5 separate regions of the Homo sapiens genome follow, and regions 1, 2, 3 and 4 are each reported to be linked to region 5. Evidence: microRNA targets listed by miRTarBase, many of them from high-throughput screens and not tested one by one. Region 5 holds a microRNA gene; each other region holds the end of a gene's coding sequence.

Region 1 (5,715 bases), not on the chromosome of region 5:
GTCGTGAGAGTGAAGGAGGAAGGGTTTGGGAACAGCAACAGAGAGCGAGAAGAATGCCACCATCACAATGCTCCCTACCCTGTCACATCTGTGAGGTGGAGAAATGAACAGCCTCCGCTTGGGAGCTTCACAGGGGAAGGACCAGTAAAGACAAGGAAACAGAATACTTTAAAAAGGCTAAGGGCATGGGATTATGTTTATCATGTCCAGAAGGCACAGGTTGGGAGGGAATGTAAGTATGAAATTGAATCTGTCCCAAATGTCTGCTTCCTTCCAGGCAAAATAAACGACAAATATATGGACAGGGTATCATGATTGTATTGCACGTTAATATCTGTTCTAAGCCCACAGAACAAGAAGAACCCCACAGCAGCCATTCTTTGCCATCATCTTGGCCAGGAACCCAGCATCCAGAATGTAGACTTGAGACCCTGGCTCCTTCCACTAGGACATTTATTTCCTAATGTTTCAATCACCTCATCCCAGCTTCTGTTTCCTGTCAGGCTCAGAGCCCCTACCTCCCACACAGTGGAGGAGTAGATGTCCATTTCTCAGGAGCAGTGGACTGCTTCCGGCAGATAGTGAAGGCCCAGGGGGTCCTGGGGCTCTGGAATGGATTGACAGCCAATTTACTGAAGGTGAGAAGAGCCACCAGCCTCCGCTGCTCCCCTGCCTCTTCCAATTCTACCCTCTTCCTTTGTCACCCCCAACCCCTACTACAGTTTGCTTGGAAAACCCCCTCTAGCACTAATGGGTAGCACAAGGCCCATGAATGCACACTGTCTGTCAGCCCCGTAGAGAGGGGAACCTGTGCAGTGGTGGAGTATCTTATACCCCATTCCAGAGGAGCTGAGCATTTAGTGCAGAGATACTTAATGTGGAGGTTCATGGGCCCCTAATGGGAACCTAACCCCTCATCCTAAAATTCTATGCAAAAATGTATGTGTATATGCATATGTGCATCATATTCCCAAAGAACTCCATGACAAAAAAAAAAAAAAACAAAAACAAAAAACATTAAGCACTCTGGACTAACCTTGCACTAGCTGGCATGTAAATGATTCCAGTCAAGGCCAGCATATAGTGACAGGTAGTATCAGATAGTCTGCGTGCATATGACCCAGATCTAGTGCCTCCCAGGCAGGTCATGCCCTTCAATCACTGTCATTCCTCTCCCAACCCACACTGAGCCAGCTTTCCTTTTGCCATCTTTCCTGATTCCAAAAAGAGTTACCATTTGTATTGCCACCGCCATTATCTCACTTTACAAGATAATTTACCCTGATCCAAGTTGACTGCAGACACATTGATGTTTTCTTTTTAAGAACTTAACTTGATTTTCATTTTTGGTTTTAACAGATAGTTCCATATTTTGGAATTATGTTTAGCACCTTTGAGTTCTGCAAGAGAATCTGTCTTTATCAAAATGGTTACATTCTGTCTCCACTGAGCTATAAATTGACCCCAGGAGTCGATCAGAGTTTGCAGCCCCAGGAATTACGAGAATTAAAGAAGTTCTTCAAAACGAGAAAACCGAAGCCTAAAAAACCAACTCTATAAAATGGAATGGAACTAGAAGTGCACTGACTGACAGCATGTTGCAATCACAGATAAATGTAGCCTCATAACTGTGCACCTGAGGAGGGATGAGAAGCTACTGCTATCTGCTGCTCTGGGAAATGAGATGGTTTGGCCATGCACCACCTCAGATCTCCAAACTGATGTCCCTGTGAACACCTGCACTATGAGAAGGTTTCCCAACAAGAGTGTATCATGATGGCATTCCACGAGATTTTATAACCAGAGTCTAGCAGTGATAAAATGTACAATTTACGCTCTGAATAGAAACATGACACCAAAGAAAGGGCATTGCCATGACATCTCAAAGCAACAGGTAATTGAAGTGGCTGAGTGGATACCACGTTGTGAGGTCAGCCACTGGGTCACTTGTAGTCAATGCAAAGCTTGCACAAACCAACGTCAGCCTAGTTTCACTCAGTTTGACCTGAGACTTTCCAATACAATCTGTTGTTTTGTTTTGTTTTTAGAGACAGGGTCTTGCTCTGTCACCCAGACTGGAGTACAATGACACAATCATAGCTCACTGCAGCCTTTAACTACTGGGCTCAAGACATCCTCCTGCTTCAGCCTCCAGAGAGTTGGGACCATAGGTGCACACCACCACACCTAGCTAATTTTTTGGGGAGGTCTTGCTATGTTGCCCAGGCTGGTCTTGAACTCCTGGGCTCATGCAATCCTCCTGCCTTGGCCTCCCAAAGCGCTAGGATTAGAGGTGTGAGCCGCTGCACCCTGCCCCAGTACAATCTTTTTTGAACTCAAATTTTTGCTGACATCTGAGTGCACACACCACAGTGTAAATTATGCCTTATCAGAATCTAAATGAAAATAGCGAACATTTAAAAGCTATCACCATTGTAGTAGAATCATCCTTCTTTTTTGAAATTTGAAGCATCCCAGGCTTAAAATCTTGTGTTTCAGAAAGACAGTTTATACCATGACTGCTTAATTATCCCCCCAAAGACCTTCTGATTGAAGTCATGTACAGTTCAGTGGCCTAAATTCTCTGCCTTTTTAACTTGCTTTGCAAGCCTACTCTGAAAATAAGTTATTTAGTCAAGTTATTCTCAAAGATGTCCCAGTTGCCTAGAAAGGATCAAATGGAACATTTGACACACATACTCAAAAAAATGTAACTGACTATAAACACTTTAACCTAATCATCTGTATCAAACTTTCTAAAAATCAAATCTCAGGATTGTTCCACTTTAGAGATTCTATGTAAAGTTTATATAACTATACTTGTCAAATAGCACCTATCTATGCATTTAAAAATGCATTAATATCTAACATAAAATTGTTAATTTATACACACACATACACTCATACATAGAGAGAGATTTTCGGTATGTTGCAAGTATTTTTTCCGATTAAATTTATTTTCCAAAGAAAAAATGATGTGTTGGTCATTTATTGCTAGTCTGAGTTATAAAACTATGGTTAAATACATATTGGCCAAATCTGTAAACTCTCAAAGCCTTATCCTATTTAAGTATACCAAAATAATTCACTTTTCCAACTGCTGCGGCATTCTGTTTTATGGAGAATGGCAGTTAACACACACACACATGGAAATCTCATCTGTAGCTCAATCTGTTAGAGTTTGGAGGGTGGCAGATTCTTTACCCAAAGTGAATAGTTCATGTTTATTACTCTTTATTTTCCTTGAAACAGACAACTTTTCAAACAGTTCTGAAAGCTGCAAAAATATTTTTTACTTTTTTAACTATAAAATCCTAACCTCACATTATTTCATGATAATATCTTGTGTATTCTTCCACAAGTAATTTTTTTTTTAATTTGAAAAAAAAAATTGTCACCCAGGCTGGAGTCCAATGGCGTGATCTCAGCTCACTGGAACCTCCTCCCGGGTTCGAGCAGTTCTCCAGCTTCAGCCTCCCGAGTAGCTGGGATTACAGGCGCCTGCCACCATGCCTGGCTAATTTTTGTATTTGTAGTAGAGACAGGGTTTCACCATGTTGGCCAGGCTGGTCTCGAACTCCTGACCTTAGGTGATCTGCCCACCTCTGCCTCCCAAAGTGCTGGGATTACAGGTGTGAGCCACCACACCCTGCCCTTCCACAAGTATTATTAAATAGATAGCTAAACTCTTGCAGTTGTCATGCACAGAAATGTTTTCTGAGCTGCAGTTTTGATTTTTTCTTCATTAAATTAAGTGGGGAAAATAATACGCCTGATTTTTCTAATTTCAGAAGAACTCTAAAACTCTTGTTCTGTTTCTAAAATAAACTTCCAGCTAATTTCATTTTCTTTGGATTATGAAGAGAGAGTTCTGCCTTTCTGCTTTATGGCTGACAGTGAGCACCACACTGGACTAAGTACTTGAGAAGGATTATAAAGATGTGTGATGCAATGTTGACTCAGGAGGAATTTATGGTCTTGAGGAACAAATCATACCTACATATATGAAATGACTATGATTACAAAGCAAATACAAGCAAAGGCATGATAATGTAGTATGAACTGTTCATAAGATTGCCAAGAAGCTCTATACAAACTTAGTGAATAAAAAACTAAAGGGATCATCACATGGGAGAGAGACTAGTGATCAACAGGGATTTGGGGAGGTTGTGAGTCTTTTTTTTTTTTTTTTTTTGAAACAGAGTCTCGTTCTGTTGCCCAGCCTGGAGTGCAGAGATGCAATCTTGGCTTACTGCAACCTCCACCTCCTGGTTCAAGTGATTCTCGTGCCTCAGCCTCCTGAGTGGCTGGGACTACAGGCGCCTGCCACCATGCCCAGCTAATGTTTGTATTTTCTTGGTAGAGACGGGGTTTCACCATGTTGGCCAGGCTGGTCTTGAACTCGTGACCTCAGGTGATCCACCTGCCTCAGCCTCCCAAAGTGCTGGGATTACAGGCATGACCCACCGCACCCAGCCATGAGTCTTGAACTAAGTTTTGAAAGAAGTTAAGGGATATGTATTGGTCACGAATAGGAAGGCATTGCAGGTTAAAGGCAGGGCATTGCAGCATCACAGAGATGGAAGCAAGCAAAAGTGGGTCAGAGCAAGAAAAGTGGCTTTGTGCATTTATTCAATAACTGCTAGGCACTACAGACACAGTGGCACAAAAGGCAGATAAGGTCCTTGCCTTCAAGGAGCTTACACTCTAGTGAGAGTGGCAGTCAATAAACAAGTAAACTAATAAATAATTTAGGTAATCATGGACTGTGATGTTATGAAGGTGCTTATATAGAGGGTGCTTTATTAGAGAATTATGTGGAGGTAAGGGGAATATTTTATTTTTGGTTTTTGTTTTGAGACAAGGTCTCGCTCTGTCGCCTAGGCTGGAGTGCAGTGGCGCGATTTCAGCTTACTGCAACCTCTGTCTCCCCGGCTGAAGTCACAGGGGAATATTTTAAATCAGGGAGCCAGAGAAGGCCACTCTGACAGGTGACATTTGAGATGAGACCAGAAGGATGAGAATGAGCCAACTATGCAAAGAACCAGGGAGGGCTGGTCAAAGTGCAGTGGTGTTTACAAGTAATTGACCACAATCAGCTACAGATTTCTTTGTTCCTTCCCACTCCCACTGCTTCACTTGACTTGCCCTAAAAAAAAAAAGAAAAAAAGAAGGGCTGGGCGCGGTGGCTCACGCCTGTAATCCCAGCACTTTGGGAGGCCAAGGCAGGCGGATCACTTGGTCAGAAATTTGACACCAGCCTGGCCAACATGGTGAAACCCCGTCTCTACTAAAAACGCAAAAATTAGCTGGGCCTGGTAGCACACACCTGTAATCCCAGCTACTCAGGAGGCTGAGGCAGGAGAATCCCTTGAACCCGGGAGGCGGAGGTTGCAGTGAGCCGAGATTGCACCACTGCACTCCAGCCTGGGTGACAGAGCGAGACTCCGTCAAAAAAAAGAAAGAAAGGACAGAAAGGAAAGAAAGAGAGAGAGAGAAAGAAAGGAAAGAAAGGAAAGAAAGAAAAAAAAGGAAAGAAAGGAAAAGAGAAAGAAAGAAAGAAAGAAAGAAAGAAAGAAAGAAAGAAAGAAAGAAAGAAAAAGGAAGAAAGAAAGAAAGAAAGAAAGAAAGAAAGAAAGAAAGAAAGAAAGAAAGAAAGAAAGAAAGGAAGGAAAGAAAGAAAGAAAGAAAGAAAGAAGAGAAAGAAAGGAGAGA
Region 2 (5,711 bases), not on the chromosome of region 5:
TGAGGTCACCCAGCAATGCAGTAACAGAGTGGACACTGGCCGGGCGCAGTGGCTCACTCCTGTAATTCCAGCACTCTGGGAGGCTGAGGCTGGTGGATCACCTGAGGTCAGGAGTTCGAGACCAGCCTGGCCAACATGGTGAAACCCCCATCTCTACGAAAAATACAAAAATTAGCCAGGTGTGGTGGCAGCCACCTGTAATCCCAGCTACTTGGAAGGCTGAGGGAGGAGAATTGCTTGAACCCGGGAGGCAGAGGTTGCAATGAGCTGAGATCGCACCACTGCACTCCAGCCTGGACGACAGAGTGAGACCCTGTCTCAAAAATAAAATTAAAAAACGGAGTGGACCCTGGATCTCAAGGGACCCCGGGCAGGGACCGGGGCGGGCGGGGCTGGAGGCGGGGGCCCAGGCTGACAGCTCTCCCCTTTGCAGGTCTTCATCGCCCAGACAGTGCTGCGAAACCCGCCTGCCATGAGCCCCGCCGGGCAGCTGTCCCGCACCACGGAGAAGGAGCTGCTCATCTACTTGCGCGTGGCCACCTGGAACCAGATCCTGGACCCCTGGGTGTATATCCTGTTCCGCCGCGCCGTGCTCCGGCGTCTCCAGCCTCGCCTCAGCACCCGGCCCAGGTCGCTGTCCCTCCAGCCCCAGCTCACGCAGCGCTCCGGGCTGCAGTAGGAAGTGGACAGAGCGCCCCTCCCGCGCCTTTCCGCGGAGCCCTTGGCCCCTCGGACAGCCCATCTGCCTGTTCTGAGGATTCAGGGGCTGGGGGTGCTGGATGGACAGTGGGCATCAGCAGCAGGGTTTTGGGTTGACCCCAATCCAACCCGGGGACCCCCAACTCCTCCCTGATCCTTTTACCAAGCACTCTCCCTTCCTCGGCCCCTTTTTCCCATCCAGAGCTCCCACCCCTTCTCTGCGTCCCTCCCAACCCCAGGAAGGGCATGCAGACATTGGAAGAGGGTCTTGCATTGCTATTTTTTTTTTTAGACGGAGTCTTGCTCTGTCCCCCAGGCTGGAGTGCAGTGGCGCAATCTCAGCTCACTGCAACCTCCACCTCCCGGGTTCAAGCGATTCTCCTGCCTCAGCCTCCTGAGTAGCTGGGACTATAGGCGCGCGCCACCACGCCCGGCTAATTTTTGTATTTTTAGTAGAGACGGGGTTTCACCGTGTTGGCCAGGCTGGTCTTGAACTCCTGACCTCAGGTGATTCACCAGCCTCAGCCTCCCAAAGTGCTGGGATCACAGGCATGAACCACCACACCTGGCCATTTTTTTTTTTTTTTTTAGACGGAGTCTCACTCTGTGGCCCAGCCTGGAGTACAGTGGCACGATCTCGGCTCACTGCAACCTCCGCCTCCCGGGTTCAAGCGATTCTCGTGCCTCAGCCTCCCGAGCAGCTGGGATTACAGGCGTAAGCCACTGCGCCCGGCCTTGCATGCTCTTTGACCCTGAATTTGACCTACTTGCTGGGGTACAGTTGCTTCCTTTTGAACCTCCAACAGGGAAGGCTCTGTCCAGAAAGGATTGAATGTGAACGGGGGCACCCCCTTTTCTTGCCAAAATATATCTCTGCCTTTGGTTTTATTTTCCTTTGGGTCCAGAAGTTTTCAATCTCTGGAGTTTGTGCATTGGGCCTCACCCGGAGCAGACGAGGGCAGGGCTGGGAAGGATGGGGAGGGACATAGAGGATTCGGTTCCTCCCCCACCTTGTTTCTTGAGTGTTTCCTAATCACTTGATGGGTGGTACCACCTAGAATTCTTCCAGCAGCCTGTAATGGGAGGGCTACAGGTTAGCCCTGGAACCTGCAATCAAACCACCTTTGAATCTGTGTGTCATTAAAAGTAGATATAAATGGGCCGGGCGCGATTGTTCATGCCTGTAATCCCAGCATTTTGGGAGGCCGAAGCGGGAGGGTCACTTGAGGCCAGAAGTTCGAGACCAGCCTGGCCAACATGGTGAACCCCTGTCTCTACTAAAAATACAAAAATTGCAGGGCGCGGTGGCTCACGCCTGTAGTCTCAGCACTTTGGGAGGTCGAGACGGGCAGATCACCTGAGGTCGGGAGTTAGAGACCAGCCTGACCAACATGGAGAAACCCCGTCTCTACTAAAAATACACAAAAAAATTAGCCGGGCGTGGTGGCGCATGTCTGTAATCCCAGCTACGCGGGAGGCTGAAGCAAGAGAATAGCTTGAACCCGGGAGGTGGAGGTTGCAGTGAGCCGAGATCACGTCATTGCACTCCAGCCTGGGCAACAAGAGCAAAACTCTGTCTCAAAAAACAAACAAACAAACAAACAAACAAACAAAAAATTAGCCAGGCATGGTGGCGGGCGCCTGTAATGCCAGCTACTCAGAAGGCTGAGGCAGGAGAATTGGTTGAACCCAGGAGGCAGAGGTTGCAGTGAGCCGAGATCATGCCACTGCACTCCAGCCTGGGCGACAGAGTAAGACTCCATCTGTAAATAAGTAAATAAATAAAACAGAGAAAGAGAGAGAGAGATGCAAAAGCGTGGAGTGATGCCCGTTTCCTCCACTGTTCACTTGTTCACCCAGCAACCTTTCAAACACCACAGTGTTCTGTACAGCACCTTGCACATAGTACGTGCTCAATAAATATTGGTAGAAAGGACCAGTGGCTGGGTCTTCGTGGAGCACCTGTCGCCTGCAGGCACGTAAGCTCATGCCTGTGCGGTGCTTAATGAAGTGCCTGGTACACAGTAGGTGCTCAAGAGGTATTCAGTGTTGCCACAGTTTCAGCCAGCCCCCCAGCCCCACATCTCTGCATTCCCCCAAACTTCCCCCAAAATGACACACCAGGCTGCAGAGATGGAAGGTGCCTTTATTCACCATGAGCCCTCAGGGTACATGCGGTGCAACCCGTCTCCTGCCCTCCTTTTCCCTCCAAGGACCTGGATCTGAGCCAGGACCGGTGAAGCCCCTGTTTTCACCACCGCACACTCCCTACCACCGCCTGCTGGAGAAATAAGGTCACTTGCTGCTTCTGGGGGCCCCAGGCTGGAAGGGACAGGAGAGGACGAGAACCACATGAACCAGGGCTAAGTCACAGCCAAGCTACGGCCCCCCGCGGTAAGGGCGGGCTCCTGGCTCCCCCAGAGTGGGGCAAAGGGCTGGCGCCAAAGCTGGGGACTCAGACAGCTGGGAACTCAGGAGGGCTGCCCTAGGGGCAGGACTAGGAGTGACAGATATGGTGGGTGGGGTGGACTTCTGGGGTCCCACCCGGGGCTTGGGAGAGACGGCTGGCTTCTGGGGGGTTGAGGAGACCTGTGACTGTGGGGCCAGGTAGGAGGCTTGGGGTAAGCCTGGGATGGGGCCAAGGCTGGCCTGGATGCCACATACCTGATCATGGGGCTGAGGCAGAGGCTGGGGGTCTTTGCTAGGGGCTGGGGTGGGGTCTCTGGGGGATGGGCCTGGGGGCTGAGGTTGGGCTGGGGCAGGGGCCTCAAGCTGGATTCTAGGGTCAAGGCCAGGGGTCTGTGGGCAGATTCCATTTCCAGGGCTCAGCCAGATTCTTGAACTGGTGTGAGTTCTGGAACTGGATTGGGTTCCAGAAACAGGCTGGGTTCCAGAACTAAGGTGGGCTCCAGGGCTGGGCTGAATTCTTGAGCCGGTCTGGGTTTCAGAGCTGAGCCCGGTCTCAGAGCTGGACTGGGTTCTGGAACTAAGTTGGGCTCCAGAGTCGGGCTGAATTCTTGAGCCGGTCTGGGTTTCAGAGCCAAACTGAATCCCAGAACTGAACTGGGTTCCAGAGCTGGACTGAGCCTCAGAGCTGAGCCTGGTCTCAGGACTGGACTGGGTTCTGGAGCTAAGATGAGCTCCAGGGCTGAGCTGAATTCTTGCAGTGGTCTGGGTCCCGGAGCTGAGCTGGTTTCCAGAACTAGTCTGAGTTCTGGAGCTGGGTTGGGCTCCGGAAATCAGCTGGGTTCCCGAACTAAGCTGACTTCCAGAGCTGGCTTGAATTCTTGAGCTTATCTGGGTCCCAGAGCTGGGCTGAGTTCCAAAGCTAAGCTGACTTTCAGAACTGCTCTGCTTCCCAAAGTCCAGTTGAATACCAGAGCTGTCTGGGGCTGTGGTCTGGAGCTGGTATCTAGAACCTGGCAGGGTTTTAGAGGCGAATTGAGTCCCAGAGGCTGGTCGAGCTCCTGGGCAGCGCTGGGTCCTGGAGCTGGACCTGCTGTCGGAACTAGACAGGGCTGTGGAGCTTAATTCTATTGCTGCGATGGCCTGGGTCCCAGGACTAGATTGGACTCCAGAGCTTAGCTGGATTCTGGAACTTGGCTGGGTCTCAGCTGCTGTCTGTGTTTTGGAGCTGGCTGGGATTTCAGAACCAGCCTGTGCTCCAGAACTGAGCTGAGTTCCAGAGCTGGGTGCGGTGCTTGGGCTGGATTGAGCTCTGGAGCTTGGCCAGGCCTTGAAATTGGTCTGGGTCCTGGAAGTAAACTGCATTCTAGAGCTGAGCTGCATTGTGCAAGGAGAGTGGGGCTTGGCACCAAGCTGTGTGCTGGAGCTGGGTCTTGCTTCCAAGATGGATGGGGTTCCAGAGCTGGTCTGAATCCTGGAGTTGGGCCTGGTTGTAGCACTAGGCGAGGTTCTAGAGCTGGGCTCAGTCTCAGAGCTGGAATCATCACTGGAGCTGGACTGGGCTGCAGGATGGGGATGGGCACTTGGATGCAACTGGGGTTGGGATCTGGACTGGGCAGCCGTGTGGACCTGGGTTTCTGAGCTGGTCTGAGTTCTTGAATAGGATTTGATTTGGGAGCTGTCTCTGAATCCTGAGCTGACTGGGGTTCCAGAGCTGGGCTGCTTCATGAATCTCACATGGGTTCCAAAATTAACTGGGGTTCCGGAGCTAGACCGAGTGTCCAGGTGTGGCTGCATCGTGGAGCTGTCCAGAGTTCCAGAGTCAGCTTGAGTTTTCCAGCAGGGCTTGGTCTCCGAGCTAGCCTGGATTCTGGAACTGGGATTGGTCTCCAAGCTGGTCTGGGTCTTAAAATGTGTCTGGGTTCCAGAGTTTGGCTTGTTGTCAGGGCTCAGCTGGATTCTAGAGATGTGCTTCGTCTCAGAGCTGGCCTGGGCTTCAGAGCAGGGCTTGGTCTCAGATCTTATCTGGGTTCTAGAGCTGGGTTTGGCCTCAGAGGTGGCCTGAGTTCTAGAACAGGGCTTGGTCTCAATGCTGGGATTGGTTTCAGAGCTTATCTGGGTTCTAGAGCTGGGCTTGGTCTCAGGGCTGACCTGAGTTCTAGAGCTGGGCTTGGCTTCAGATGTGGCCTGAATTCTAGAACACGGCTTGGTCTCTATGCTGGGCTTGGTTTCAGAGCTTATCTGGGTTCTAGAGCTGGGCTTGGTCTCGGAGCTGGCCTGGACTCTAGAACAGGGCTTGGTCTCAATACTGGGCTCTGTCTCAGAGCTCATCTGAGTTCTAGAGCTGGGCATGGTCTCAGAGCTCATCTGGGTTCTAGAGCTGGGCTTGGTCTCGGAGCCCATCTGAGTTCTAGAGCTGGGCATGGTCTCAGAGCCCATCTGAGTTCTAGAGCTGGGCTCGGTCTCAGAGCCCATCTGAGTTCTAGAGCTGGGCTCGGTCTCAGAGCCCATCTGAGTTCTAGAGCTGGGCATGGTCTCAGAGCCCATCTGAGTTTTAGAGCTGGGCTCGGTCTCAGAGCCCATCTGAGTTCTAGAGCTGGGCTCGG
Region 3 (5,715 bases), not on the chromosome of region 5:
GGCAGGGCCAGTGGACTTTGGCTGCCAAAGCCCTCCCTCCCCAGGCCTACTGGCCAAGTCCATGGCTAAGTCCCCTCCTGGTGGGCAGGAGATCAGAAGTTCTTGATGGCTGGGCTGGGCAAGGGTTGCCCCCAAATTCCAGAACACTTCGAGATGGGGGCCATCCCCCGACCCCAACACATGCCACCTGTCCCTGGCTCCTGGGGGTGGGGTGCTGGCCAGGAGCCCAGAAGGTGGATACAGGCTCTGGAATCATCAGAGCCAGCACCACCCCAAGGCCCAGCCCCTGCCCCCCATCCTGCCCAGGAGGAGCCCGGGGCCCTGAGACCTGCAGGTTTGAGAAAGTGACAAGAGAGAAACTGAGGCTGGGATCACGAGGCACTCACTCCTGCCCCACCCATGCCCTCAGGAACTCCCCAGCACCCAGGCCTGGGGGTACAACTTACTCCACCTCCTGCTCCCAGGGGGAGAATGGTGTCTGTGGCCAGTGGGGGTGGGTGGACACCTGTGCCACACGGAAGAGTATGGGGTGCCTGACCCCTGCCTGGCCAGGACCCTGGAAGGCCAAGGGCCGCAGGGAACAGGACACTTGGCTCAGGTGGAGCTGACGGGAGAATGTCCCAGGGACCCCCAAATCACATGCCGCAAGAGCCCCCAGGAAATGGAGGCCCCTGGTCCATGGTGAATGGGGGTAGAAAGAGACCCAGGTGTCCATGTAGCCCAGGCAGGCCTCCCAGGGTGAGTGAGGGGCCGAGTCTTGCCCCTGCTCTTAGGCTGTGTAGGGAAGGCTCTGGCGCCCGCACGCCCTGGCCCAGGGCACCACATGTGGGTGACGGGCCAGGCCCAGGGGCACATCTGTGCCATCGGCTTTGTGGCCCTTGCTCTGAGAGCCCCTGCGTCCCACCCCCACACAGAGGGCCCCTCGGCCTCTGAGACGGCTCCATCGGGACCCAGTGAAGGTGATGGGAGCTGCTGTTTTCAGGGCGAGGTGACAGAGGACCCCCGAATACCGCTGGACCTTACTCCACCAGCCTCTCCCTGGTCGGAGGGCTCCTTGGAAATACAGAAAACTCAGGAAGCAGGTCGCAGCCCGAGTTTGGAAGGATGTTTGGTTAAAAACCAGCTCAAGGCCCACCTAAGGGAGGCACCAGAGCCCCCTCTAGGGACGGGTCCTGCCAAGGCTGTTCAGGCCTGGGATGCTGGGCAGAAGTGGCTCACACCTGTAGCCCCAGAACTTTGGGAGGCCGAGGAGGGAGGACTGCTTGAGCCCAGGAGTCCGAGACCAGCCTGGGCAACACAGCAAGACCCCATCTCTAAAAAAATAAAATAGAAGCCACCCGGCCTGGCCCCCCATGGGCTTCTGGCAGGCTCCTGTCCCACCTGACCGGGCTCAGGCGAGGTCCCAGCTCACAGCCCCCAAGCCTGACATCCAAGCCCCAGCAGGAGGGATGGATGGACATGGGGGGCCCTCCTGGCTAGGGGTCCTCCCGGGAGCTTGGCCCCCTGAAGAAATCAGGCCAAACACACTGATGCCAACACTCTCCTCCCCAGAGCCGAAAACCCACAAGCAGGGCCCTGATGAGGGCAAAGAACCCTCTTCTCTGGAGGACACAGAGAGAGGCTGAACTTGGGCTACACCCTCTGCCTGCAAGACTTGCCACCCTGGGTAGTGACGTCGGCGAAACAGGAAGGTGGGGACGCCATGCTCTCAGGAGGGAGAGCCCTGGCTGAACTTCGCCGTAGGGGACCGATGTACCCAGCAGAGGGTCTGCAGAAGCCATGAGCACATGGGTGCGTGGGGAGAGCAGCCTCTAACCCAGTGTAGACCAAGCATCCGGGCCTGACCAAGGACACAGACGGCGGGTCTATGTACACGGCGCAACCTCCCCACGTGGGCCTGCCCCTCAGGAAGCGGCTCGTCAAATCACAGTATTTTCACATCACAAAGCAAAAGGCTGATTCCCTTAAGCTGTCTTGTTTCAGAAAGTCTTGGCAATTCAAGAATATGTAGTAGTGATATTTAAAAAAACCACACGTACGCACACACAAAAGGCCGTGATACAGACCCCCTGGGAGGCCCGCCCAGGTCCAGGAGGGGCGTGAATCCTTCTGGAACACAGGGACGCCTGGCTGCTGGCTCCTGGCTGGGCCCCGGGTACTCGCGTGGGCCCCACTGTCCCTGGCAAGCTCGGACCTCGGTCCACCAGGTTCTTATTGGAAAAAGAACTCCATAATGGACCAAGGTCGTCACGTTAACACAATGTCACTGTGAATCTGGCTTCAGGATGCTGAAAATGGGCCACGGGCCTGGGATGCTCCGAGGTGGGCATCCCTCCTCTCCTATCTGTCCACACCGAAGACCAGAGGACAAGCAGTGGCGCCCGCCGGAGGTTGGACGGATGGGGTATGAGGTTTCCTAGCATGGTCCTCAATGCCTTCTTTTGAAAACCGCATCCAGGCGGGTTGCTTGTAATTTTATTAAGGCCATTTTTTTTTAAGTCCTACATACAAGTCTAATGGTAATGAAACTCTCCTATGTACATGTAGTTTTTCTTAAAAAAAAAAAAAAGTCCCCGCTGTCTGCCCCCAGCCTCTGTCATGGTAAGAGAAAGGGACCTTGACCTGGACAGACCAACAGTGTCCCCCCCGCACCTTGGAACAAGACGGCAGCAGGAGCAACGTGACCAGGGAGCCTTCTCCTATGAGTGGCCACTTGGCTGCTCAGACACATGCCAAAGGCATTGCCGGGCAAAGAGAGGAAGGGATGGTTGCTAGGATCAAACCCAGCTCTGAGGACAGAAGCCAGGGTGCCCAGGACCCCAGTGAAAGCAGCAGCCATGACACTACAAATAAACGGACTCAGCAGAAGGCGCTGTCCCGGCAGGCAGGAGCGAGCGAGAGCCGCAATGCAGTTTTGGGGGGATCAGAACAGCAGTTCCTATTCCAAGAACAGCAGAAAACAAAGCCAGCCCTGATGCCTCCCTTGCAGGGCCCGTGGTATGGGGAGGGTCCAGGACAGCTCCCAAGTACCCTGTCACCCTGGTCTTAGAGGTGCTCCTGAAACCTGCCACTAAAACACACACTGCTGTGTGTCTCCAAGTCCACCTGCCACGACCCTGAGCTGCCAAGAAGGGGCAGCCAGCAGACCACGCTGCCCAAGAGAGGGGGTGTGGGCTAGGAGCCAGAGGGTAGGGTGGAGAGGGGATGAAATGCCAGTTCCACCCAGGTTCTCAGGGAGGACCGTGGTCCTCGTCTCGGGGACCCTCGCTCCCTGCCAGTCCCCCACACTCTTGGGGCAGAGAGGTCTCAGCTGCCACTGGTCATGGCATCTTCACACACACACTCTAAGGACTAGCAGGCACCTCTGGGAGAGGCTGGCAGGCTGGGTCTTTGAGAGACCCTCAATAAAAGCCAAGGCCCCTTCCCGGAAGTCTGTTCTGTGGCCCTGGCAGAGGCACCTCTGCCTACCGTGAGCTCCTGACAAGGCCCTGCCCAGCCTGACCAGCCCTTTTGTTTTGAGATAACTTGGGGTGAAACCCAAAAGCCGGACTCACTTCTTACACTCAGGTGGGTGGCGGGCTGCTTTGGGGCGCATGGCCTCCATTTCCAGTTAGCTTAAAAAATAGGTAAAGTTGGATTTCTGAAATAAAAACATGCTCTCAGGCAAGTGTTGGCTTAAAAGATTAAGCGAGTCATCTACAACCAAAATGTAACTAGAAACTAAAAGGAAAAAAAAACCACAATGAAACTCCCCTGGCCACCTCTGCCTGTACCTTAAATTAACAGCATCTATGACAGGACCGGTGACCACAGTGCAGGACAGGAGGGGCCACGGATTGTAAAGCCCCAAGAGGTAACCCCTGCCTCCGCGTTCGACCCCTCACGGGGCCTTCCGGTCACTTCCCGGCAAAGGTGGCCACCGATGGGCCTGCCTGCGGTGAGGCAGGGCTTCGAGGGGATGGAGACAGGGCGAGGAGGGTCGTGGGGGGGTCCGCCGCCCTGCATGCTCTGTCCACTTTGCGCCTGCCCCGGTGGACGCCAGGGCTCTGTGTGTGCTCAGAAATATAAAAGACAGCCGTCAAAATAGTGTTTATTTCACTTTGCGTCTGCCCCGCGCTCTGGCGCCTCCTCCCTGGGGCGGCGTGGGGCTCACTCTCTACCTGACCACGGGCTGGGGATGGCGGATGGGCTGGGGGACCGGGAACCAAGGAAGGCAGTGAGAGCTGGACAAACAGTCGGAAAATGCGCCACGGCCCACAGCCCTGGCGGACCATGCGCGCCCCTCCCCTGAGCCTGCCCGCCACGCCGGGAGCTGACACTTCCCGCATCTTACAGGGGACGGCTCAGGCCCCGGGGCTGGGGGCGAGGGAGCCAGTGCAGGGAGGGTCTGCAGGGGCGGGAGGCTCACGGCCTCCGATCCCAGCCCAGCCCTGGGCGGGCGGGTGGGTGGACGGCCCGGCTCGCGGCCTCGCGATTGGGCTTCGCGGGAGGTGGACAACCGGGGGCGGGCTGGCGGGGGGCGCTTGGCGGCATTGCAAGCTCAGAATCACAAGCTCGGCCGTTGGCGAGGGACGGAGCACGGCCGTCCCCGGGCTGGGGAGGCGCCGTCGGGACGGCTGAGCGGCAGGGTGCCGGCGTGCCCGCTCACAGGCGGTCCATCCGGAAGGTGTCCTCGGTGGCTGGGTCGGCCAGAACCATGTCGGGGTCGTTGAGCATGTGCAGTCCGTCGAGGGTCAGGGGGTCGATCTTGAGTTCGTCCAGGGGAAACTGGCTGTCGGAGTCGAAGCTGACGTCGCCGACCCCGGCCAGAGAGCTGGTCAGTTCTTTAGAGAGGCTGGGGGGGGACTCTCCTGTCACTGGGGGATGGGGTGGGGACAAAAGGCACTGCTTAGCCCTGGCTCCATCGCTCGCATCCATGTGTCGGACCAGGCATGCCCGCCGGGCGACTCTGTCCCCTGGGTATGCTGGCAATGTCTGGGGACATTCCAGCTGTCATGACTGGGGGAGGGGCCAGCACATGAGATGCTGCTCAGCACCCTACAGTGCCTGGACCCCAGAGACCAGTCTGGCCCTAGATGTCAGCTCCAGATGTCAGGAGCACCAAGGAGAAGCCTCGGGCCAAGGGCTGTGTCACTGATGCACGTCAGCATGACCTGGCGAGGGCAGGGACCTCCCCGGCTCCCTCAGCCATGAGGGCTGCTCGGCACGAGTCACTGAGAAGCAGGCTGGAGTGACTGTGGGGACCCAGCTGCTGCTAGGGCTGGAGGGAATCCTCAGTTCCCCCACAAAGACCCGGGTTCAAACCTAGGCTTCCACCTACACTCAGGTTCCAGGTCTGAGAAATGGGGCTGAAACGCCCTGTCTTTCTGGGCTCTTGAGGCCATTGCGGGGGTCAGATTCTGATTCTTCTCCTGAGTCTGAGGCTGGCGCGTCCACCCTTGAATTTCTCGTCAACTGCTGCCTACACCCGAGGGGTGGGAAGGAGGTGCTGGATTCTGCACTCAGAGCCCAGGCCACAGTGGGGGAGCACTAAATACGGACACTTCCAGCCTGGAAGAGGCCAGTGAGGACTGCCAGGGGGCGCATCACCCTCAATCCAGCAGCCCTGACTCATAAGGGAATCATCTTCTTCAGCAGGGAGACAGGGTCTGGGTTCTGTGCTAGATGGAGCCGGGTCTTCCTGATATGTGCCATGCAGGACGGGGCTGGCTTGTC
Region 4 (5,403 bases), not on the chromosome of region 5:
TCCACAAGAGCCACTCATCTGGCCACGCGGAGGATGCTGTCTGTTGGGCATTGGGATGAGCATGGGTAAATCCACACCCACAGTCCTTACCCATGACCCTGAAATCTACCAAGCTCTGACAACCAAAAGCTTTTTAGGAACCTGTTTGTCACACAACTTGACTTGAAGTGGCATGAGGCTATGATCTTTAATTCTTACCAATGTACCACTTTTATATAAGGGACTTGATCATCTGAGGATTTTGGCATCCCCTGGGATCCTGGAACCAAACTCCCATGGATACTGAGGGACACCTGTACTACTCACATTACTCATACATGTAGTAGAGTATTCATGTATTTGATTACAGGGTATTGTACAAAACCCCTCGGGAATGTTATCTGCACAGTATTACCTTTCTAAAACCCAAAATGTCTTGGATTCCAAAGCACATCTGGCTCCAGGGGTTTCAGAGAAGGGAGTGTGGACTTGTGTCGTTTAATCCTCTTGGCAACTCTTACGACGAGGCAGCTCTTACTTATAGATGGGGAAATGAGGCTCAAAGATGTAGTTACCTGAAGTCACAGCTCTTGGGGGCAGAGCCATTTGAACACAGGACTCTGCAACTCCAATGCCAAGCTGTTACCCACTGCATTGAATTCTTTAGGAAGAGCCCAGCATAATAAGGAACTTGAACTTTAGTCCATAAGCAGTGGAGGAATTACTGAGCTCCTCTGCCTAGGTAGGAGATGGTGGGGGAAGAGGAAACAGAAACTGCAGGAGGTAGTTTGGGGTGCTTACACTCCGGCTGCATCTGCAAAACTGATTGCGGGGCAGGGACTTGAGTATGGGGAGGAGGCTGCTAGAAGACCATCGCAGTGATCCATTCATTCAGTCTAGTCATATGGTGCTAAGAGCTGGTTTTAAGCACAGCAAATATAGGCTGGATCCCTGCAGTCTGTAGGAGGTAAGTATGGGAACACAGTACTTGCCACTGTCAATTAACAAAAAGCGAGCACTTCAGATTGGCTGCTCAGAGGCCCCTCAGGCTGTACTCAAGCTGATTTGAATGGCAAAGAACCTCTGTGGGGAAACTAGCCAGTGCAAAAGCCCAGAGGTGGAGTTAGGAAATAGCTGGTGAGACAGAAGCCTCAGGAGACCTCGCAGCAGGGATTTATGTTGGGGAAGATGATGGGGCAGAGAGGAAGCCAAAGACCAGTGAGGAGGCAGTGGTGTGGGCCAGGCTCAATAAAGGATGGCTGCTTCTGCTGTTTCCTACTTTAGGTCAAAGCTGGTTCTGTGAAGCAGGAGTTTGAAAAGCAAGATGAACTGAAGCGCTCTGCAATGAGGGCAGTGGCTGCCCTGCTGACCATCCCCGAGGTGGGGAAAAGCCCCATCATGGCCGACTTCTCTTCCCAAATCAGATCCAACCCTGAACTTGCTGCCCTCTTTGAAAGCATCCAGAAGGATTCCGCTTCAGCCCCCAGCACAGACTCAATGGAGCTCAGCTAGTCCCCTCAGCACCAAGGTGGGCCCTCGCTTAAGAGAAAGGAGCCCACCCAAGTCCGAGGCCTCCCCATCCCACCATCGCAGGTCTCTACTTTTGCCCTTCCACCATCTCACTGGGGGCCCTGTCGCTCCTGGTCAGGGCTTACAGTGCCTTCTCCAGGGACCCAACTCAAAGGCCCCCAGCCCAAGCTGTGAGGCTGCCAACAGTTGGGCCCCTTCCTTAACTCAGGACAGTCATCCAAAGAAATAGGGTGAGGAAGTTTTCCAGTGACTTCACACTGTACCCCTCCATAGTCTGTCTGGTTCCTTCAGAGGGTGTCTCTGCCTCACAAACTAGTAGTATTTAGAAATAGGCTGTGCTGTCAGCTGTAAAAGATCAGGAGGCAGCAGACACCACTCTGGTTTCTTCACTGCATTCAGCAATGCCTGAAGTTAGTGCTCAGGCCGGGCATCTCAAAAGAAAAGATACTTGAGTTATTCACATTTTAAAATTCAAAACGGTTCATTTTTAAGTGGCAGTGATGAATCAGAAATTTGGAAGATGATACGGGTTTCTTTTTTCCAGGGAGGAGGAATGGGTTGGGTAGGGAACTGGACAGGCTTGGACCTCATGTTTCATTTCTAATTTCAAAATACTTATTAGCAAATTGGGCAACAATGGGCATCTTCCATGCCACCACCCAGGCATAACCAGTTGGTTTGTTTCCTTCTGAGGAAGGTTTCAAATGTGTCTAGTGTTCAGTATTGAGGACAAAGAAATACAAGTGGCAGGCCCAAGTATTTTCTGTGATATCCCAGGTTAATAAAGATTAGATTCTAAGTTACTTCTTTCCTCTGCACGACTCGTCTCCAATTGTTAATCGAATCGCCTGAACCCAGGAGGCAGAAGTTGCAGGGAGCCAAGATCAAGCCACTGCACTCCAGCCGGGGTGACAGAATGAGTCTCAAAAACAAAATCCCAAAAATGACCAGTTTGCATTATAAATATTTATGACTAGGTTTTGAACAGGAGACAATCTGTAAGATTCCTGTCTAGACTAGAAGTAGAAAAGCTTTATTATACCCAGCGCAGCATTTCTGCTAAGTTGACCAGGATGGTTACAGAAAAACATCCTGTAAGCATTTCTGTCTCATAAGTACCACATCCCATATCCCTCATGACCTATATACTACAGAAGATGCCTGTAATCCCAGTACTTTGGGAGGCTGAAGCAGGATTGCTTGAGCTCAGGAGTTCGGGAGCCTAGGCAACATGGCTAGACCACCTCTACAAAAAAACTTCAAAAACTACCCAGGTTTGGAGGTGTGCATCTGTAGTCCCAGCTACTTGGAAGGCTGAGGTGGGAAGATCACCTGAGCCTGGGGAGGTCAAGGCTGTAGTCAGTGTGCCACTGCACTCCCAGCCTGGGTGAGAGCAAGACCCCGTCTCCAAAAAAAATCAGGACCACGTGTCACTAAATTCTGAGTACCAGTCAAGAGGCTCAATTGTCACCAGTTAGGTCCCCGCCTTGGCAAACTGCTGTAACATTATACCTGAAGCAGCAGCTGGTGGGAGGGTTATAGGAGACTGAAAGTGCTTTTCCAGTTAACCGTGGTGGATTACCTGGAAGAGCAATTTGTACATCATCCTGTTCTTTTTGGACAGAAGTTACAGGATGCAATTTAGGCATCCCGTAAGAATCTGTGTAAGAAATTCATCTGGATATTTCCATGCATATTTTCTCAATTCTCACAAGCATCACATGGAATAACTTGTCACCTAACTTTACAAAAGCAAGGCTAAGAATGACTACTTGTGGCTTGGGAGCCACAAGCTTCTTCAAGTGTCTCAGAACCTACCTGGTGTGAGGGCCAAGTCTGTACCCCTCATACCCAGCCTCAACTGGAGATGACTAAGGCTAGTCTGTGCACTTGAGGCCACATTCCCCTGTTCAAGGACTGAGTGTCCTTTACAAATCCCCTCCAAATGGGAGATTCCAAAGGGGCTTAAGCAAAAGAACAATCTCTGTGGCAAACTAAGTTGGCCAAGAAGCTGAAGACTTAAAATCAAGGAAGGAAGATGCCAGATGGCAGTTTTTACATTTATTTAAACAGAAAACGTGCACATGAGCTGCCTACTCATTTTCTTCACTGCGCAGCCTGGCATTGGGGTTGGTGACTCTGATGGCCAGTTGGGCAGCTCTTTCCACGATGGCTTTGCGGTTCTTGGAGGAAACATTGTGAGCGATCTCGGCACAGTAAGATCTGCAAGAGAATCAAGTAGGTAAGGAGCAAGACAGCCCTCAACACACTTGGAAAATTCCATTGGAGAGGCAATGAGTCCCAGCACCAAGCTAAGAGAGGGCTGCTTGGTAAGTGGCTGTGGAATGACACCTACATGCCCCCAAATCCTGACTATGGTTCCCTGGTGGTGACAAGAATGCTTTCATTAAAAAGTACCCTCATTGTCCCCTCTCATCCTTATAGCAGCCTTGTAATCCAGGCATTACCTCCATTTTACAGATAAAGAAACCAAGGCCCACAGCAAGCAATGGACAGGGATCCGGGGCGAACCCAGGCCCACACTCCAGGTTCAAAGGTTCTCCCCCAGTCACAGGGTGCTTGACCTTGCCCATGAAGGTTCAGAACTCTTTGCAAAATGGTCAAGAGCAGAACCCAAGAGTCTGAATGGAGCCAAGAGCACCTGGTTTGACTGCTGAGGATACAAAGCAAGTTGAGAAGCAACAATGCTTAAAGTCACCCAGTCATAGCCATGCCTATTACCTGAGGACTTCAGATCCAGTTCTAACTCATTCCTCACAACTTTTTAAGAGGCAGCTACACTGTGCCCCATTTGATAACCAATAGGCCTAACAAGCACACTTCAGTAAGGAGGTGATTTATGAAGCCACCCACAGTGGTTAAGAACAGACATTCCACCCCTAAAGCATTTTCAGCAAAGAGAGAAGCAGCAGGACTGTGAGGAGTGATTGAGGCAGTGGACACACAGCTCTTTTCAAGAACCCTGCCTTAACAGCAAGACAGCAAATCCAGACAATTCTTGTTTTATATGAGTCCACTCAAATTCAAAGCAATTGTATTTTTAAATGTTTCTACGTTTTAAAGACTTAGGTTATATTACACTTCTCATCTGTCTTTACTTTTCAAAAAACCCTCCTGTCCTTGTCCATCTATATATTTGATAATCACAATCAGAGTGTACCCACCATTTTAAATGTGTCCCCCCTGGCTTGGGCATTTTCCACACTACAACACTCGAATCATTTTGAGTGGACCCACAACATTTTATCCAGCACTCTACAATTCTCTCATTATATTTTCAGTTGTTTCCAGTGGGTTATTGCTGCAATGACTAGCTTTAGTTTGCCTGCTTTTCCATTCCTTAAGGACAAATGCCCAGAAATGGAACTTAGAGATCAAACGTCAAAGAGTATTTCTATGGATCTTAAAGACTGCCAAGCTGCGCTTACAGAGCATATGCCAACCAGCCAACATGTGCACTGCAACTGAGTAATCATGTTGGCCATACAACAGGTATTGCCTGTTACAGTTCAACTCATACAGCCAACTGTGGTTTCAGTATCCACCATTAATTCCTTCGCCCATCTTTTCTAACAGAAATTTTCAGCATTTCAACGCCTGGTTAAATTTCCAATCTTGGAAGGTAACCACGTTAGAATACTGGTCTTGTTCATTTTTATTACTTGTATCTACAACCACTGTAGGTGAAAGTTATCTTTGTAAACGTAAACACAAACATCCTAGTTAGTCACACACACTCCATGTTCTTTCTAGTTTACTTAGGAAAATTCAGCTTTTTGGCTTTCATTTACCAGTAAGTGAAGAAAATAAACTGTCACTTCCCATGAGAATTTTTCATTCCACTGCCCTAGTTTTAATCTAAGCAGGTCACTG
Region 5 (5,715 bases):
CATCTCTGTATCCCCGCCCAAGGTCTGTGGGCCTGAGGTGAGTTGAGGCAAACTAATCTGATTTATGAGTGGGGCTAGAAGAATGCAGGAGGCCACCAGAATCATGATTGGTGCAGTAGTAAATGAGACCTGGGAGATTTGGCCTCAGTGTGTGCTATGATGTTCATCCCCTAATAGGTGCCTGGGGATGACCACAGAGAGCTCTGGGAGTCAAAGAAACACCACAGGAAACAAACTATTAAGGAAGTCTGGGGTCAGTGCCCAGATCTGTTTTTTTTTAAACCTATTTAGTTGAGCATATAATATATGTCAGGCACTAGGCATATTACATATATTATCTGACCTAATTCTACAGTAACTCTGAGAGGTAAAGATTGTTATTAGTTCCATTTAATAGATGTGGAAACAGAGGCCCAGAATGGTTAGGTAACTTGTCTAAATTCAGGCTGCAAATAAAAGCCAAATCCACAATTTGAACCCCAGCCGATCTGACTCCAAAGGGTCCCTGAGAAAAGTCATGCTTGGTCTCTGAGATGGGGAGGGATGCATGGGCACAGGTGGGATGAGACTTGGTGGTGGGGTGGGAGAGGAATCAGGGCAGGTCCAAGGCCAGGGCAGAGGTGGGAACGCCACAGAGGACCAAAGGGAGTGTATGGGAAGGGAGTGAGGTATGAGACAAACTCTACCTCCTTCACACTCAGGTGACACACCTGTGTCACTCAGGACTGGTCCTACTGGCTCCCTGAACTTCATCCTAACCCACTTTGGAGCCTCTGAGAGCCTAAGATGTATGAGACCATCAACACATCCAAGAATCATAGAATCTTGGAATGATCGAATCTTAGAACCACAACATTGGACAATTCTAGAAGCTTTGTGTTCTAAGGAAAGACAGGTTCTTAGAAACATGGAATTCTCAAAATCCTGAACCTTAGAATCCTAGAATTTTGGAGTCTTCAAATGTTGAAATCATGGATTCATAAAGTATCTATGCAGAAAATCTTTGAAGATCATAGCTTACCCCCTCCCCTTATTTTGCAGATGGGAAACTGAGGCTCAGAGAAAGGAGGATGAGTCTCTGAATGTCACACAGTGAACTTGTGGCTTAAAGAACTAAAACTGTTTTCACCAGCCATGTTCAAGGGTTGGGGCTAGTGCCAGCACTGCAGGAACTGAGGCGGCCTGTCGCCGTCTGGCAGTTCTTCCTCCTGCTTGGTTCTGGCATGGCCTTGGGCACTCATCTCACTTGAGGAAGAGAGAGCTCCAGGCCATGCCACCCTTCCTTGTGCCTGTCACCTTCTAGGGTATGGTGGGGTGGGGATTGTGGCCACTGGAGGCCTCCTGCCAGGCCCCCCACATTCTCAGCCTCTGCCAGGTCTGTTGGTGGGGGGAAGGGGCCTCCTGCCTGGGCATTGGCTGAGACACTCTTTCTGTCTTCATGCTCTGAGCAGGCGGTGAGGTGAAGGGGGTGCCAACTGGCACAGAGACCTGGGCTACAGGGCTGCCCCAAGGAAGGGAGGACAGGGCTTCTTCAGCAACAGGCTGAGACCTAAGGTGGTGGCAGTGTTGCAATCACCCCCTCCCTGGTGGGAGGAGGGGACTGAGGAAGAAAGACATTATTCACTCCTTGGAGAGTTGGGCTGGCTCTGACCAGCACCCCAGCTGGGCCCGTGTCCCACCCTCTCTGCCAGTAGAGGCTGAGAGATAAACACAGCTCATTTGATACGGGCCAGCCGGGCCTTGCTGGCTTGCTGGGAATGTGAGAGGCGAACTTTAATCGCTCCTCCACTTTGCGGAGTTGGGAAGGGAATGGCGAGGGAACTAAGCCATGTGTTCCTACTCTCAGCGACCCTCGAAGCACAGACTGAAGGCATCGTGACAGCAGTCTCAAATCTTTGTTCTAGGAGGCCCAAGAGGGCAGAGCAGGAGCAATATGAGGAACCCGAGAGAGGCCAACTCCAGCTCCTTACAAAGAAAACCTTCTGATGGTTAGGAATGGCCCATGAGCTCCTGTTTCCTGGAGGCGTGTGTCAGGCAGGGGCTGCACGCCAGCCCAGCCCCCAGTGCTGAGAGGGAATTCCTGCACTGAATGTGAGCTCCCCGCTCACCCCACCCAACTCATTACTGCTTTCAATGCTCTGCGATTCTGTTTCAAAGTCTAAGAGAATGTGATTTAGGAAGTGTAAGAACCCATGTTTCTAAGACGCTTGACTCTGGAAAATGAGAAGGAGGCATGAGAGGCAGCTTCTCCATTTTAGACCAACAGGGGACTAAGAGAATAAGCTAGGGAGTCGGGGATGGTGGCTGGTGGGGCAGAGAGAGAAGAAGGCCTTTAGGCCCTGGAATTGTGTAAAAAGCCACAGGAGATGAGAGATGAGGTGAAGAGAAAGGAGCTCTGCTTTGGAGGCGGGAGTCCTGGGCTGAAATCCTAGCGGAGGACTTTAGGCAAGTGGCATAGTCTCTGTGAGCCTTCTCATAATTGTGGTAACAGTCCAAAGCCACTGCAAGACGGATACTGTCATCTATTCCAGAAGATGACAATGTCCATTTTGCAGTGGCTTTGTGATTGTTACCACAATTATCATAATAATAGCATTCAACTAAGGGTCAGAAACTGGACTGGGTAAACACTTTACAAGCGTTATCTAATTTAATGGTCAAAACAATAATGTTAATGAGATAATTAACTTCTATAAGGGGTTCGGCAAAGAGAAGATAGTCAATAATGTTGGTTCCCTTCTCCATATTTCAATCTCATTTAATTCAACAAACCTTTACTGGCACTTAGCTTGTGCTGAGCCTCCCAGTTCCTCCTGAAAAGAGCTCAGGCAATGGAGTGTTTTTCCCTGCTGGCGTGAAGATCGCTAGGTACCTGCGTAGAGGAGGGTTGGTGAGGATAGGGCGGGAGGCAGAGGGGCAGGGCACAAGGCTGCAGTGCTGGGCTGGGAGGTCTGACCCAGGGCTGGAGGTGAGTGGGTAGGAGGTGGGAGCAGGAGTGGATCAGTGGGTTATGGGAGGTGAGAAAGGCAGAGGTTTCAGGAATGCAGGATTGTAGGAGAGATAGCCAACCCATGGAACAAACGATTTTAGTAATTCTTAGAAGCATTCATCCAGATATTGACAACTGATGTGCGATTGCAAAAAAGTCCATTGGTGTGCCAATCACAAATCACAGTAGTAGCAACGACCATTTTTAAGGATACTTGAAAGTCAGTTTCCTAACAACCTTCTCATCACGGCTCACCAAAATATAAGGACATAGTACAGTGTGAAAGCAAGAAAGCTCCCAGAGCCATGGCCTCAGGCCCCATCCCTGCCAATCCTCCTCTACACAGGTGCCTGGTGATCTTCACACCAGGAGGACTTTGTTCAAAAGGTGGGCTACAGGACCCAGAGAATGTGTACACGTGTGTGTGTGTGTGTGTGTGTGTGTGTGTGTGTGTGTGTGTACAGGGGAGGGGGATGGGAGAGGAGAGAGGGGTGGGAAGGGAGGGAAGGGTGAGGTGATGTACTAAATAAGCCAAATGGGACAAATAAAAAGGAAACAAGCATGATTGTGAGGGCAGAGGAGCGTGGGACTGAGTCAGGAGACTGGTGCTGTCATCGCTGCCTGGTGACTGACTTGCTGTGTGGCCCTCAGGTGTAACTTACCCTCTCTGGGCCTCATTTGTCTAATCATAATAATTAACGCTGATACCATGATATAAATCTGTACAGCATTTCACTGCTTGATTCCCTAACTGCCCTGTGAGATAAGCGTTAAGGCTCAGAGACAGTGGCATGCCCAGTGTTGCACAGTAAGTGTGTGGTAAAGCCGAGATTCAAACTCAGACCTTCTGGCCCCTTGCCTAGGAGAGCATGCCCAGTTGTCTAGCAGATTCTCTTTTGCCTGAGTGGCCCAGATGACATCTCTTTTAGAGCTAGAAAGAAGGAGAAATGAGACAGGGTCTTTGGGCTGGAGCCTCCTGGGACTAACATGGCACTGGTCGGTTTGCCAGGCCCAGACATGTTCTGCCTTTTCCATGGGAAGAGATACTCCCCCGGCGAGAGCTGGCACCCCTACTTGGAGCCACAAGGCCTGATGTACTGCCTGCGCTGTACCTGCTCAGAGGTAGGTTCCTCTGGCCACCTGACCACCTGTGTCAGGGATGTCTGAGAACCCTCCAGAGAAGTCACCCCAGAAGGAGGACCAGGCCTTCTAGAACTGTGCTGTCAGCGGCAGCTGAGAGACTTGGGACAAGCCACTTCACTACTGACTACTCAATATATAGGATTAGATGGCTACTGTGTACCTCCCAAAGATAAGTCACACAAACATTAGTGGCTGGGTTGGGATGAGGGCCCTGGTCTCCCATCTCACATCCCAGCCTTCTTTCCACCTCGTGCTGGTGCCAGCCTCCCTGCCTCCCACGCAGCCCAAGACAGAGCCTTTTTGACCTTATCTCCCATTCCCTTCTTTTCACGTACTATTTCCTCCAGCCACTTTGGCCCTGCCTTAGGATGTGTTCCCCCACCTCCACTAGCCCAACTACTTGTTCCTCAAGGATTTGCTCAAATGGGAAAATGACCTCCACCTGGAAGGATTTTCTTCTTCTGGGATCCCACATAAGTTTCTCTGCCCCTTTCTCCTGATCATTGTTGACCAGGCAACATAGTTACTGCCCCTCCTAGACTGAACCTCTGAGGCTAGGACTTGCTGGGCCCTCACTCACACCTGGCATGATTCCCTGCCAAAGGCTGAGCCACCTGGGGTAGAGACCATGTTTTTGTTTTCCATCTCCTCCCACCCCATCGCACCCCATGACAATCCAGCACCTCCACAGGGCCTTGTAAAATCAACTGGGTAGAATAAATGAGACCCCCATGTGGTCCAGAATTCACAAGTAAGGTATGAGATTGGAGGGGCGGAAGAGGAGGAAGTGGCTTAGGAGGCCTGAAAAACCCTTGGCTTTAGCTCAGCTGCCTGGAGCCCAGTGTGGATGTCCCCAGCTTTCTTTGTCTGGGTGTTGGTGCTTGGAGGGAGGGGTAGCTAGCTCCCAGCCCGAGCCAGCCTCCCAGCCCCACTCTTTCCCTGCACAGAGCCAAGAGAGGAATGCAGAAGGCCTCTAAGAGTCTCCCTTGTTAAAACAGAACCCTCTGGGGTGGGAGCAGACAGAGCTCTGGAGGAGATCCTGTGGGGTGGCGGAGAGGGTGGCTAGCCCCCCTCCTGACTTTGACACTGGGGTCTCACTCCTCCTGGGGTCTTTCCTCCTGACTCACCACTGCTTCTACCGTGTTGGCCCCAAGTAGAAATGGGGACACAACCCCCACCATGACTGCCTCCCCTCGGTTTGCCTTAGCACATCTGAGGCCAATCAGCCTTTTCAAGAAGGACTTTATGAAATATAGCCAGAGAACAGAAAGGAAATCATAACAGAAAATTCCAGACATATCATGTGGTCCAGTTGACAAAGTCCAAGTTTTTTGAGCCATTGGAGTTAATTCATTTCTCCTTTCACAGAGTTCACATACAGTTTCCTCAACCCAGAGGACTTTTGCTGGTATCTGCAAAATATACCCTCAATCCCTCCACTTCTCTCCACCATCACTGCTCCCCCTAATCCAAGCCACCATCATCTGTCATCTCTTTCCTGGGCTGCCACACAAGCCTCCTAACAGGTCTTCCTGTTTCCCCCCCTAAATCCATCCTCCACGCGGCAGTGAGAATGGTTTTTT

What was found. The annotated mature microRNA hsa-miR-4696 reads UGCAAGACGGAUACUGUCAUCU and lies in region 5 at 2,503-2,524, shown strand. An mRNA with a match to its seed (bases 2 to 7 or 8) in the 3' UTR can be bound and repressed. Matches are read on the target gene's strand: a 7mer-m8 pairs with bases 2 to 8, a 7mer-A1 pairs with bases 2 to 7 and ends in A, and an 8mer does both.
Region 1: the mRNA of SLC25A43 is a reported target of hsa-miR-4696. Seed matches in the 3' UTR shown: 7mer-m8 at 2,056-2,062 and 7mer-m8 at 2,208-2,214.
Region 2: miRTarBase lists TBXA2R as a target of hsa-miR-4696. Seed matches in the 3' UTR shown: 8mer at 965-972 and 7mer-m8 at 997-1,003.
Region 3: the mRNA of CRTC1 is a reported target of hsa-miR-4696. Seed matches in the 3' UTR shown: 8mer at 1,647-1,654 and 7mer-m8 at 1,300-1,306.
Region 4: the mRNA of RPL32 is a reported target of hsa-miR-4696. Seed matches in the 3' UTR shown: 7mer-m8 at 2,903-2,909.

Annotation. Positions count from the first base shown.
Region 1 is chrX:119,451,506-119,457,220 of GRCh38, forward strand. SLC25A43 (solute carrier family 25 member 43) reads left to right here. Exons shown (of 5, transcript NM_145305.3): 4 at 504-638; 5 at 1,360-2,973. The coding sequence ends at 1,560. It also overlaps the pseudogene RNY3P16. Among named protein-coding and RNA genes, the nearest start is that of SLC25A5, 14 kb to the right of the region's middle. RefSeq lists a silencer at 4,861-5,155.
Region 2 is chr19:3,590,656-3,596,366 of GRCh38, reverse strand. TBXA2R (thromboxane A2 receptor) reads left to right here. Exons shown (of 3, transcript NM_001060.6): 3 at 434-1,860. The coding sequence ends at 679. GIPC3 (GIPC PDZ domain containing family member 3) reads right to left here. Exons shown (of 6, transcript NM_133261.3): 6 at 2,826-5,711. Among named protein-coding and RNA genes, the nearest start is that of GIPC3, 8.0 kb to the right of the region's middle.
Region 3 is chr19:18,776,312-18,782,026 of GRCh38, reverse strand. It overlaps CRTC1 (CREB regulated transcription coactivator 1), which reads right to left. Exons shown (of 14, transcript NM_015321.3): 14 at 1-4,856. The coding sequence ends at 4,645. Among named protein-coding and RNA genes, the nearest start is that of COMP, 12 kb to the left of the region's middle.
Region 4 is chr3:12,832,492-12,837,894 of GRCh38, forward strand. It overlaps RPL32 (ribosomal protein L32), which reads right to left. Exons shown (of 4, transcript NM_000994.4): 4 at 1,994-3,732. The coding sequence ends at 3,603. CAND2 (cullin associated and neddylation dissociated 2 (putative)) reads left to right here. Exons shown (of 15, transcript NM_001162499.2): 15 at 1,264-2,312. The coding sequence ends at 1,491. Among named protein-coding and RNA genes, the nearest start is that of SNORA7A, 5.3 kb to the right of the region's middle.
Region 5 is chr11:74,717,116-74,722,830 of GRCh38, reverse strand. MIR4696 (microRNA 4696) reads left to right here and starts at 2,494; the gene lies at 2,494-2,563. It overlaps CHRDL2 (chordin like 2), which reads left to right. Exons shown (of 11, transcript NM_001278473.3): 2 at 3,999-4,111.